Linked DNA regions of Homo sapiens: region 2 is linked to region 1. The links come from fine-mapping of genetic effects on gene expression. A gene starts in region 1. The other region holds a variant in brackets. All regions are shown on one strand. Distances are between the middles of the regions.

Region 1 (5,392 bases):
ATTACTGCTTTAGAAAAGAACCAGTTTTGTTCTTTAAACATATCCAGAATCTAAAGGCAGAAATAAAGCCATTAGCATGCACAACAGCATCTGGTCTGCAAAGGACACAAGAAATCAGCCATGGCAACTGCAGGGCAACACCAAACAGCTTTAGCTGTCCATTTATTGGAACACAGGGCCAGTGTGAGGCTTTTATAATCTTCACAGAGTGGGGTAATAATATTGAGGCTGTCAATATGCCGCTAAAAAAAATAATGCAAGGGAAGAAGTCAATGGATCCAAGAGTTTGATATATTGAGAAATGAGAAACCTACTGTGACTAGCATTTTCTTGTCATTCTGTAACAGAGGTAAAATCAGAAACCTGCGATTACACACTGCTGGTGGTATTTTGCCTGAAAAAGCCTCTCGGTGTGAGAATTGCTAAGTGCCTCTTTCCTGAGAACAAGTATGAACCAAGAGATAACCCAACATTCCAGATGGTATCATCTCCTTAAGGGAGAAAGCAGGGGAAAAATAAAGTCAACTGTGATTAAAGACGTACTTGACACAGAAACAAGACCAAAATGAGTAAAAAATCTTTTAAAATATATTTTTATAAATGCATCAGCAAAGTATGAAAACATGTAGACTTAAGTTATCACGTGTATGTGTGTGTGTGCGCGTGTGTGAACATCTATATATCCTCAACCAAATAGCACCAAAATTGTAATAAATTATAAGTACAGTTCATACCTATTTTTAAGGATATTAGTATTTAATTGTATGGGCTTATAGTTCTGTGGAAAAGTGGATAGGGAAACAAAAAACGTTTTCAACACATATATGTATAACCTATCCTATTATGTTCATGTAATCTTTAGCAAGGGCCTTATGTGACCTTAAAAGGAAGCGGTGGGGAGGGGGGCAGTTATAATTAAGAGGGCAGGCTATGAAATCAGATCTAGGATTGAATTCCAGCTCTGCCACTTACAGTTTTCAACGCCCAGATTCTTCATTTGTAAAATATGGTTAAACCTTCCTTGTTTTGAGAACCAAATGACATGAATATTGTGAAACTCTTACATAGAACATAGGATATAGAATACTTAAAAAAAGAGTAGTTGTTGACTGCAAACAGTAAAACAAAAGAATAAATAAGTCAGTCAATGGGGTAGTCAATGGCTATTTTCTTATTCAAAAGAAAAGTGAAGCTAGAATAATTTTAATGGGAGATTTTAAAGATTTTCTAACACATAATCTTATTTTTTTTAAAAAAAAAACAGCCCACAATTTTCAGCAGTTTTTACTTTCTTTTTTCTATTTACTAGCATCATTTGACATAAGTAGTGGAAATGAGCTTCTGAAAATATACTTAATTTTCATATTATAAATCTTATTTTCTATAGTTTTATTAGGAGACAGTGTTATAACATTTTATATCTGGCAGAAACTCGAATACAGTAATTTTAATTTATTCATTAATAATGAATAAATTAGATGAGATACGCAAGGCTCAGAAATATTAAGAATTGCTCCAAACACCCAGATATTGTGGAGCAGAGTCAGGATGGCAGCTGCAACCTTCTGACTTCCAATCCAGGGCTCTTCATACAAGAAGGCTGTCCTGTATATGTGACAGATACAAGTTCCTATCTGAACACTGTCTTTATTAACAAGTTTTCGTGTGCATAAATGGGTGCCTTTGAAGATCTGGATACTTAATTGGGGAGCATCATCTGGAGTGTTCATGTTGGCTAAAGTAGCTCTTGTCAGGAATACGTATACCAGCAGATGCATCAGTTAGAATATTCTTTTCTCCAATGGGTTTAAGACATACTTTCCTAAGAATTGAGTTTCTGAAACACTGAACAACACCCAAACCCTGCAATCCAAATTTGTTTTTGCCTATTACACTGAAGTCTCTCTGTTAACAGGCATATATAGAAGACAACCATTTTTTTCAATATAATATTTCATAAGTTAGATGAAATCTTTTGTTCCATTATATAAAGTTCAGAAAATCAACATAAAATTAATAATGATGTTAAAGAAACTACTGGAAACCAGATAAATACAATACAATCTATAATTGTTTTCAAGTTTTTTGGACATTTCGCATACTTCTCCAAGTTTTCTACATTATGTTATAAAGTTCTAATAAGTTCATTTATGTGAAAAAATTAACTTTTTTTGATACTTGATATTTATATTATTACTAAAAAGCACTTCATCCGAGAGAAAGTTTCAAAGAAAGCCTTCCTTTTATAGGAAGAGGAGAGGAACATTTAAACTATGTATTATTACCAAATTGATATTCAAAAAATATATTCAACTTCAAAAGGCAAATGACTAGTTTAGACATGCTTGAGAGAGAGACATTCACTTTAAGGTTCTGGGACAACTCCTTTGATATATCTCCATCTTAAAAACAAGCAAACAAACTCTTGTTTGGAGAGGGTATTTAGAGCCATAAATAATTTTTTACTGGGTCTATTTTTGAGTTGGAGCAGGAGTAAGAAATACATTTTATATGGAATTTTAAATCACTTTTCAATTTATGAACCTAGCCTAGAAAGTCTGTGTAAAATGAAATATTTTAAAAGTTACAGTATTATCTGTATCTTCATTTCTATATGTATGTATCTATCATCTGTGTACCTACTCATCTATCTATCTAATTATTCTTTCTTTCCAGCAAATGTTCACTTCTGGTTTCCCTACGTCTGCCTGGAAGTGGGGGCAGTATGGCAGTATGGAAGACCTAGAAAGGGACAAGGAGAGCTACAATAACAGCGGTCTAAATATATCCTAGGATGAAAAGGTGAGGAAGGAAACAGGCGCAGAAGTGTTATAAGAAACCAAAGCGGCCTTTTGAGAAGGGATGTAAGAGCAGGCCCCTGAGCAGTTTCACTTCCTCTGGGCGCCCAGCAGAGCGGAGCCCTGGCCTTGCGGGCATGAGCCCCGGGGCTGCGTTTCCTGAGACCTGGCCGCAGCCTCCGCGGGTGGCAAGCGGGCTGGGGAGAGCCGAGGGCCAAAGGAAGAGAAAATCGCGGGGAGTCTCTGGCCGGGAGAGTCCAGGTAGCGCTCGGCGGGCAGCAGTGCGCAGGCCCCTCGGCTTCAACCGCCACAATGCTGCCAGCAGCGCCAGGCAAGGGGCTTGGGAGCCCGGACCCCGCCCCCTGCGGCCCAGCGCCCCCAGGTGGGTAGTCGCGCATTCGGAGGGGCTTGACGCCGAGGCCGGGCTACGGGGCTCTGCGGAGACCACGGGCCATCGTTAGACAACTGCACTCGGGCACTGAGGCCAGGGCGTCCCTGAGACAGGGCTTCTCCTTTTTATCCTGCCGCCAGGCAGCCCAGAGGGTTCTTCTGTCCCTGACTTCTCTGAGGGGCATCTGGACGCCACGAGGAGGGAGCGCGCTGGGAGTTCTGGCCAGCGGGCTACCCTCAGTGTCTGCAACTTCTGAGGAGCTGGAACTTTCCCCAGCACCCGGGTCAGGGTCCTGTAGTTTCTAAAATCACTTTGCAACCTGTTTTAAAGCAATGCGCGTTTAAAATTATACGTAATTATTTTCAACAGTCGGTAAGCACAGAAAAACCGCTCATGTGTAGCGTCACGCATTTACCTGCCCGGCCTGACAAATCCCAGCCTGGTGAATTGGTAGCCCTGCTTCTTGGCAGGTGGCTTTGCAGAGAAACTCTACCAACACCACCTCCCTACTCCACTGGCTTTACTAACTTGGTCAAAGGAAAACGGTCAACTTGGTTGAATGCAGAAGTAGATTTATATTTTCAAATGGACGTTAAGGCAGTTTTATTTAGTTCTTTTTGAAGCATTTCAAATGCATTTGCAAATTACTCAGTGATATAAAAATGTTTTTTAAATTAAAAAACTTCACTTAGGTATTAATATTACTGGAGTGTTCGTGGTGAGAAATGCAACAAGAAAGTATATTCTGAGTGAAAGTTTCTTAATTTGCTGAATAGAAATAAATTTCTCATACCTTTCTAGAATTTTTTAGGTAATGTAATTTTGGTTGTAGCTATTTCTGTTGGCTAGTGCATTTTTACATAAATAAGCTTTAGGGATTGCTTTCAGTTAAATAAGAAGTATATTTGTGTCAATGAAAAGTGACAAGAAAGGACTTAGAGCCCATAACTTAATATTATTAATATTTTAACTATTGCATATTGACATTCTTGAAAACTGTGGCTCTGATGGTCTTCAGCAGAGCAGACTTTGCTAGCATCTATAAATAAACCAACCATGTCTTTCAAACTTTGAGCAGGTTACCTCTTTTGTAATTTCAGTTTAACAATTTTGTTAGAGAATGGGGTACAGTTTGTTTCAAACTTCTAGATTAAACAGTTTAGGCAGAAAATGCCTTTTATTTCACTTGATACTAAGCAATACTTTGAGGCACTTGCTATTGTGAATAATGCAAGAGTAATGTGAATCAATATTTATAGCATTCCAATTATTCTTGTTCCTCCCATGCATTCCGCTCCCCCCCCGCCCCGCCCCTCCCAACTCCTTGGGTCCTTCTCCATGCAGTATTTATCACTTGCTTCAGTTACTTCCTTTTCTGGCCAACATAATGAAACTTTTCTAAAAACGAATTGTCTTTTGACATTATCCCATGCCCATATTCTTGATATGAGTAATCTTCTAGCTTTTATAAATCCAGTGGTTTGTGTGTGTGTGTGTGTGTGTGTGTGTGTTTTTTTTTTTTTAATGAAGAGCTCCCTCTCTCTCCAACAACTATCTTAATATGGCACATTGGGGGTCAATTGGTCCAACTGCCTCATTTAGAGAAGAGAGCACTGAGATCCAGAGTGTGAGTTGCTCATGGTTTCATAACTAGTAATTATTTGAAGGTCACCCATTCATTAACTTAACAAACTTTTATTCCCTGCCAAGAGTCATGTAGTAGTAATAAGAATGTAAAATGGTAAACACAGTTTCATGCCCAGGAAGGTATATTTCTAGCAGGAGATAGAATGTACTGCTAGACAACATTAGTGTATACTGCCATCAGAGATTTATTAACTGTTGAGTATCGACTTGTTCTTTAATGGAAGCAAGAAAAATAGAATACCCAGTTCTCTAAAACAAGGTAAAAATGATGCACAATGGGTGAAAGTTCTAGTTAGAATGTATTTTCTGGTTTGTATTTAACTATATATTACTATCAATGTCCAAAAGAGAGATTCTTCCTGTTGTATTCCAAAACTAATGATTTTAAAAATTTAATTTTAACTGCTGTTTTAATTAGGGAGTGATTATTTATTAAATCACAGATTTTTCTCCACACCATAGTTTTTTTTAAATTTTTATTGATATTATTGGATGCATCTGATGAAACTTTAATAAATGATTTGCTTAAGAACAGAAAGCATGAAAGGGTGGAATT
Region 2 (5,392 bases), 58 kb after region 1:
GCAATGTCAAATAAGGTATAATCTTATGCTATGGTAAGAATTAATGCCTTAGACATTTTTACTAGAGATTTGGGCCATAGGGTTTTTGTTTTTGTTTTTGTTTTTATTATACTTTAAGTTTTAAGGTACAGGTGCACAACGTGCAGGTTTGTTACATATGTATACATGTGCCATGTTGGTGTGCTGCACCCATTAACTCGTCATTTACCATTAGGTATACCTCCTAATGCTATCCCTCCCCCCTTCCCCCACCCCACAACAGGCCCCAGTGTATGATGTTCCCTTTCCTGTGTCCATGTGTTCCTATTGTTCAATTCCCACCTATGAGTGAGAACATGTGGTGTTTGGCACACGTATGTTTATTGCCGCACTGTTCACAATAGCAAAGACTGGGAACCAACCCAAATGTCCAACAATGATAGACTGGATTAAGAAAATGTGGCACATATATACCATGGAATACTATGCAGCCATACAAAATGATGAGTTCATGTCCTTTGTAGGGACATGGATGAAGCTGGAAACCATCATTCTCAGCAAACTATTGCAAGGATATGTTGTTTTTAACAGCTCTGAAAATTTTGTGTTTTTGATTCCATCAGATAATTCCTGTGATAAATTGACTGCTGTATGCATGGATAAAACTGTGGGTTGGGAAACAGTATAGGGTAGTGTATTAGTCTGTTTTCACACTGCTATAAAGAACACTCAAGACTGGGTAATTTTTAAGACTGGGTAATTTTTAAGAAGACTGGGTAATTTTTAAGACTGGGTAATTTAAATAACTCACAGTTCTGCATGGCCAAGAAGGCCTCAGGAAACTTAAAATCATGGTGGAAGGTGAAGGGGAAGCAAGGAATATCTTACATGGCAGCAGGAGATAGAGAGGGCAGGGGAAGTGCTACAGTTTTAAACAAGCAGATCTTGTGAGAACTGACTCACTATCATGAGAACAGCATGGGGGAAACCACCCCCGTGATCTAGTCACCTCCTACCAGATTCCTCCCTTAACACCTGGGGATTACAATTCGAGATGAGATTTGTGTAGGAACACAGAGCCAAACCATATCTAGTAGTGATCAAGGTTCTCTGAAGTCTGACTAGCTAGGTATTCTCCTGACTTCAGCAATAACTAGCTGTGTGGCCTTGAAGAGTTCATTTATTGCTCAGAACCTTATTTTCCTTATTAAAAATGGCAACTTCCATCCCTTTTCCTCACCCTCCCTGTCAGCATCTGCTGCGCTCCAGATTTTACTCATATATCGTTTGCCTCCCCTCATTAGATTGCAAGTCGTATGAAGGAAGGCTTACCACCATGTCCTCTGCATCCTGAATAGCACCTGGTACATAGTTGGCTGGTAAATATTTGTTCAAAGAAATCCATATAACAAGGATAATATTATTGCCTGCCTCTTGGGTTGGCAGAGTGTGTGTGTGTGTGTGTGTGTGTGTGTGTGTGTGTGTATGTATATAGTGAGTTAATATATGCAAGGCACTAAGAATAGTACTGGCACATAGTCAATGTTCAGTAGTTGTTAGTTGTTATTCATATTCATGAGAAGTTTGGGGTATTTATTTTTGTATTTTGTCTCTTTTTAGTTTTTTTTACTATTATTATTTTTAATTTTTCCATAAGTTATTGGGGTGCAGGTGGTATTTGGTTACATGTGTAAGTTCTTTAGTGGTGATCTGTAAGATTTTGGTGCACCCATCACCCAAGCAATATACACTGCACCATATTTGTAGTCTTCTATCCCTCACTCCCACAGGTCCCTCAAATCCATTGCATCATTCTTATGCCTTTGTCTCCTCGCAGCTTAGCTCCCAGATATCATTGAGAACATACGATGTTTGGTTTTCCACTCCTGAGTTACTTCACTTAGAATAATAGTCTCCAATCTCATCCAGGTCACTGCAAATGCTGTTAATTCATTCCTTTTTATGTCTGCGTAGTATTCCATCATACACACACACACACACACACACACACACACACACACACATATGTCTCACACAGTTTCTTTATCCACTCGTTGATTGATGGGCATTTGGGTTGGTTCCACGATTTTGCCGGATTCGCTCCCTCCCCTGAGTTCTGGCCAGGAAGCTTCTTGCCCCGTTCAAATTGTTACAAAGTTCAGCTAGAGAATTCCTTCTCCCTGTGGAGTTTTACCCCCTGCTCCTCTGGCCATCTTCCTGATGGATCCCTTTGGCGCCAGCGAGGAATGGCTGCCTGGGAACCCAGTGAGCTCCCAGGGCCTTTCTGCTACCTCCTCTACCTCGGTGTTTTGCTCTGCTCTCCAAATTGACTCAGTCAGGGAAAGTTAGACACTTCTCCCGCAAACAGATCTTCAGCTTCTCCAGTGGGGCTGTGTGTTCGGGAGAGGAGGGTCTCTCTTTCCCACTTCCGCAGTTGGGGCACTCATAGTTTTGGGGGGGGTCTCCTGGGTCCTGTAGGAGCAGTCCGCTTCCTCCAGAGGGTCTGTGGGTCCTCTCGGGATTGCTGGTTTGTTCTTGTAGTTAATCTGGAGCTAAAATTCACAATGCGAGCCCCCGCTTGCTGCTCTGTCTGGAGTTGCACTCTAGTCCTGCCTCCTCCTGTCCGCCATGATCTCCGGTATTCATTTTAGGTCAAACCCATATTTTAATTTTTTTTCTTTTAGGCAATAAATTAATTATGGCTTCCATTTCACTTGCTAGCTAGAAGTCATCACTAAAAACACTCCAGTTTCTACACAGTAACTTAAGGTTTACCTTGCTACACTGGGAAAGGAAAGATTAGGCACTAGATCCATTTGCTAAGATAATACAGTCATGCACTTGAGATATAAGAGAAATACAATCCAGTGTCAAGGGCATGCAGTTTAAAGTGAAGAGT[A/G]ATATTATTTTGTTAATTGCTTCATGCTTTATTATTTAATTTAGCTATTCAATCGTGATAGTAAAAACAAAACAGAACAAAACAATTCTATTGTTACTTAAACATAGGTAATTTTAATATACAGCCTCTTTTTCATACTTTTTGCAATGGCAAGGGTCTCTAACTTTTAGGCATTAGAGATGGATGTCCCTTCATTCTCTTCCTAGTCTCTCATTCCAGGATCTTGTTTATGCCCTTCTAGCATCCTCCCACCTCTCCCTTTCAGCGATGCAATCACTCCCCAAGTTCTAGCTGCATCATAGGCTTATCCCCTTATCTGCTGAGCCACGGAGGCAACTGGGGCTGGACATACATGCCTTGCTCTTACTTCCCTGCACTTAGCCCCCTTGTACTTTACTTAAGCCTATCACACTAGGTTCCACAGTTACATGTAAAAACCTGTAGTGTACTGAAGGCAATACCAGAAATTGAAACATTAAAGTTGTCATTACTTCCTGGAGTCTCATGGCAATTGCAGGTAGGCCTTTCTCAAAGAGAGGTTTGGTACTTTTTTACTCTTAATCCGCTTCTTCCAACCTCATCTCCTTGAAGTATGTTCAGTTGATATACAATAATGCATTTATTTTACCAATAGTTATTGAGTGCTGGTCACTTCCTGGATCTCATGGAGACTGGAGAAAGGAGTTATGAGAATATAGGTCCAATGGCTAGAATGTTCTCTCTCTTCTCTTCACCATTTTAAGTTTCAGACCCACTTCTGAGGAGGCCAACCTGAATGCCCAATACATGTCTTTAGCTTAACAATGAACATACAGTGGTGGTGGCGTTTTTAGTTAGGACATGGAGATACACACGCACACACACACATATACACACACACACAAATATATAAGCATATATATGTATACACACACTCATATTCTTAGGACATGGAAATATAGGTAATTTGTATGTATTAACACATACTATATAAAAAAATTTATGTGTGTGTATATATACACAATAAAATTTGTGTGTGTGTATATATATGATTATGTCTATCTAATTACCTTCTAAACTATTTAAAGCTTATATAAAAAGGAAAATTAACTCAAATTGTTATCTAAACATCAGTGAAGTTTCATTTTCTACCCAAGGGCCGGAAAAACTTCGTCATTTATTTACTTTGGAAAATTTGGGATTTTTCTATTGAATTTACTACTTATGGCTCTGTTACTTTATTCCTAGGTTAATTCTATCTGCTTTTTAGTTTTCTATGTCTGTTTGATACAAAATACTATATTCTCTGCACATTTTAGAAAAGTGTTAGAAGAGGAAAGAAAGATTCTATTTGGCTTCACATTTTATTGAGGAGGAACAGTTTCTCACTCACAGAATATAAGAGCTGTCTACAAATAGTTTTAAATGTTTGACAGAAATTCAGTAATCCATCACTGGATAGGGATTATATTTTTAAGGGTGTGTTCAGAATGAAATACAATGTCAGTAAAAGTCTTGATAAACTGTAAAAACTCATTAGAGTATAAAATATTTTTATTATTGCACTTAATATGAGCATACCTTGATTTGTTCTGCTTTGAATTTGTGTTTGGGTGTCTTTTTGTTTGTTTGTTTGTTTGGTTGGTTGGTTTGTTTTTTTGAGAGGGAGTCTTGCTTTGTCACCCAGGCTGGAGTACAGTGGTGTGATCTAGGCTCACTGCAACCTCTGCTTCCTGGGCCCAAGCAATTCTCCTGTCTCAGCCTCCCAAGTAGCTGGGATTACAGGCGTGTGCCATGACACCCAACTAATTTTTTTTTTTTTTTGTATTTTTTGGTAGGGACGGGGTTTCACCATGTTGGCCAGGCTGGTCTCGAACTCTTGACCTCAAGTGATCTGCCTGCCCCAGCCTCCCAAAGTGCTGGTATTACAGGCATAAGCCACCGTGCCCGGCCTGTGCTTTGCTTTTTTGTGCTACACAGACACTGCATTTTTTACAAATTGAAGGTTTGTGGCAACCTTTTGTTGAGCAAGTCTATTGGCACCATTCTTCCAACAGTATGCACTTGCCTCATGTTTCTGTGTCACATTTTGGTGATTCTTGCACTATTTCAAACTTTTTTCATTATCATTATGTCTGTTGTGGTGATCTGTGACAAATGATCTTTGGTGTTACCATTGTGATTGTTTTGGGTGCCATGGACTGCACCCATACAAGACAGTGAATTTAAGCAATAGACGTTTTGTGTATTCTGACTGCTTCACTGACTGGGTATTCCCCCATCTCTCTCCCTCTGCTTGGGCCTCCCTATTCCCTGAGACAAAACACTATTGAAATTAGGCCAATGAATAAGCCTACAATGGCCTCCAAGTGTTCAAGTGAAAGAAAGAGTCACACATCTCTCGCTTAAAATAAAAAGCTAAAAATAATTAAGCTTAGTGAGAAAGGCATGTTAAAAGCCAATATAGGTAGAAAGCTAGGATTCTTTCTTCAAACAATTAGCCAAGTTGTGAGTGCAAAGGAAAAGTTCTTGAAG

The links. PIP is the estimated chance that this variant, and not a neighbour inherited with it, causes the effect.
Region 2: its variant is the best candidate, but not a certain one, in a credible set for the expression of BANK1 in subcutaneous fat (TwinsUK, PIP 0.53).

What each region holds. Positions count from the first base shown.
Region 1 is chr4:101,787,771-101,793,162 of GRCh38, forward strand. It overlaps BANK1 (B cell scaffold protein with ankyrin repeats 1), which reads left to right and starts at 2,960. Exons shown (of 17, transcript NM_017935.5): 1 at 2,960-3,180. The coding sequence starts at 3,111. RefSeq lists a silencer at 3,047-3,236.
Region 2 is chr4:101,845,773-101,851,164 of GRCh38, forward strand. All of the region lies in intron 2 of BANK1 (B cell scaffold protein with ankyrin repeats 1), which reads left to right. Among named protein-coding and RNA genes, the nearest start is that of BANK1, 58 kb to the left of the region's middle. The variant A/G (reference allele first, on the strand shown) is at 2,879.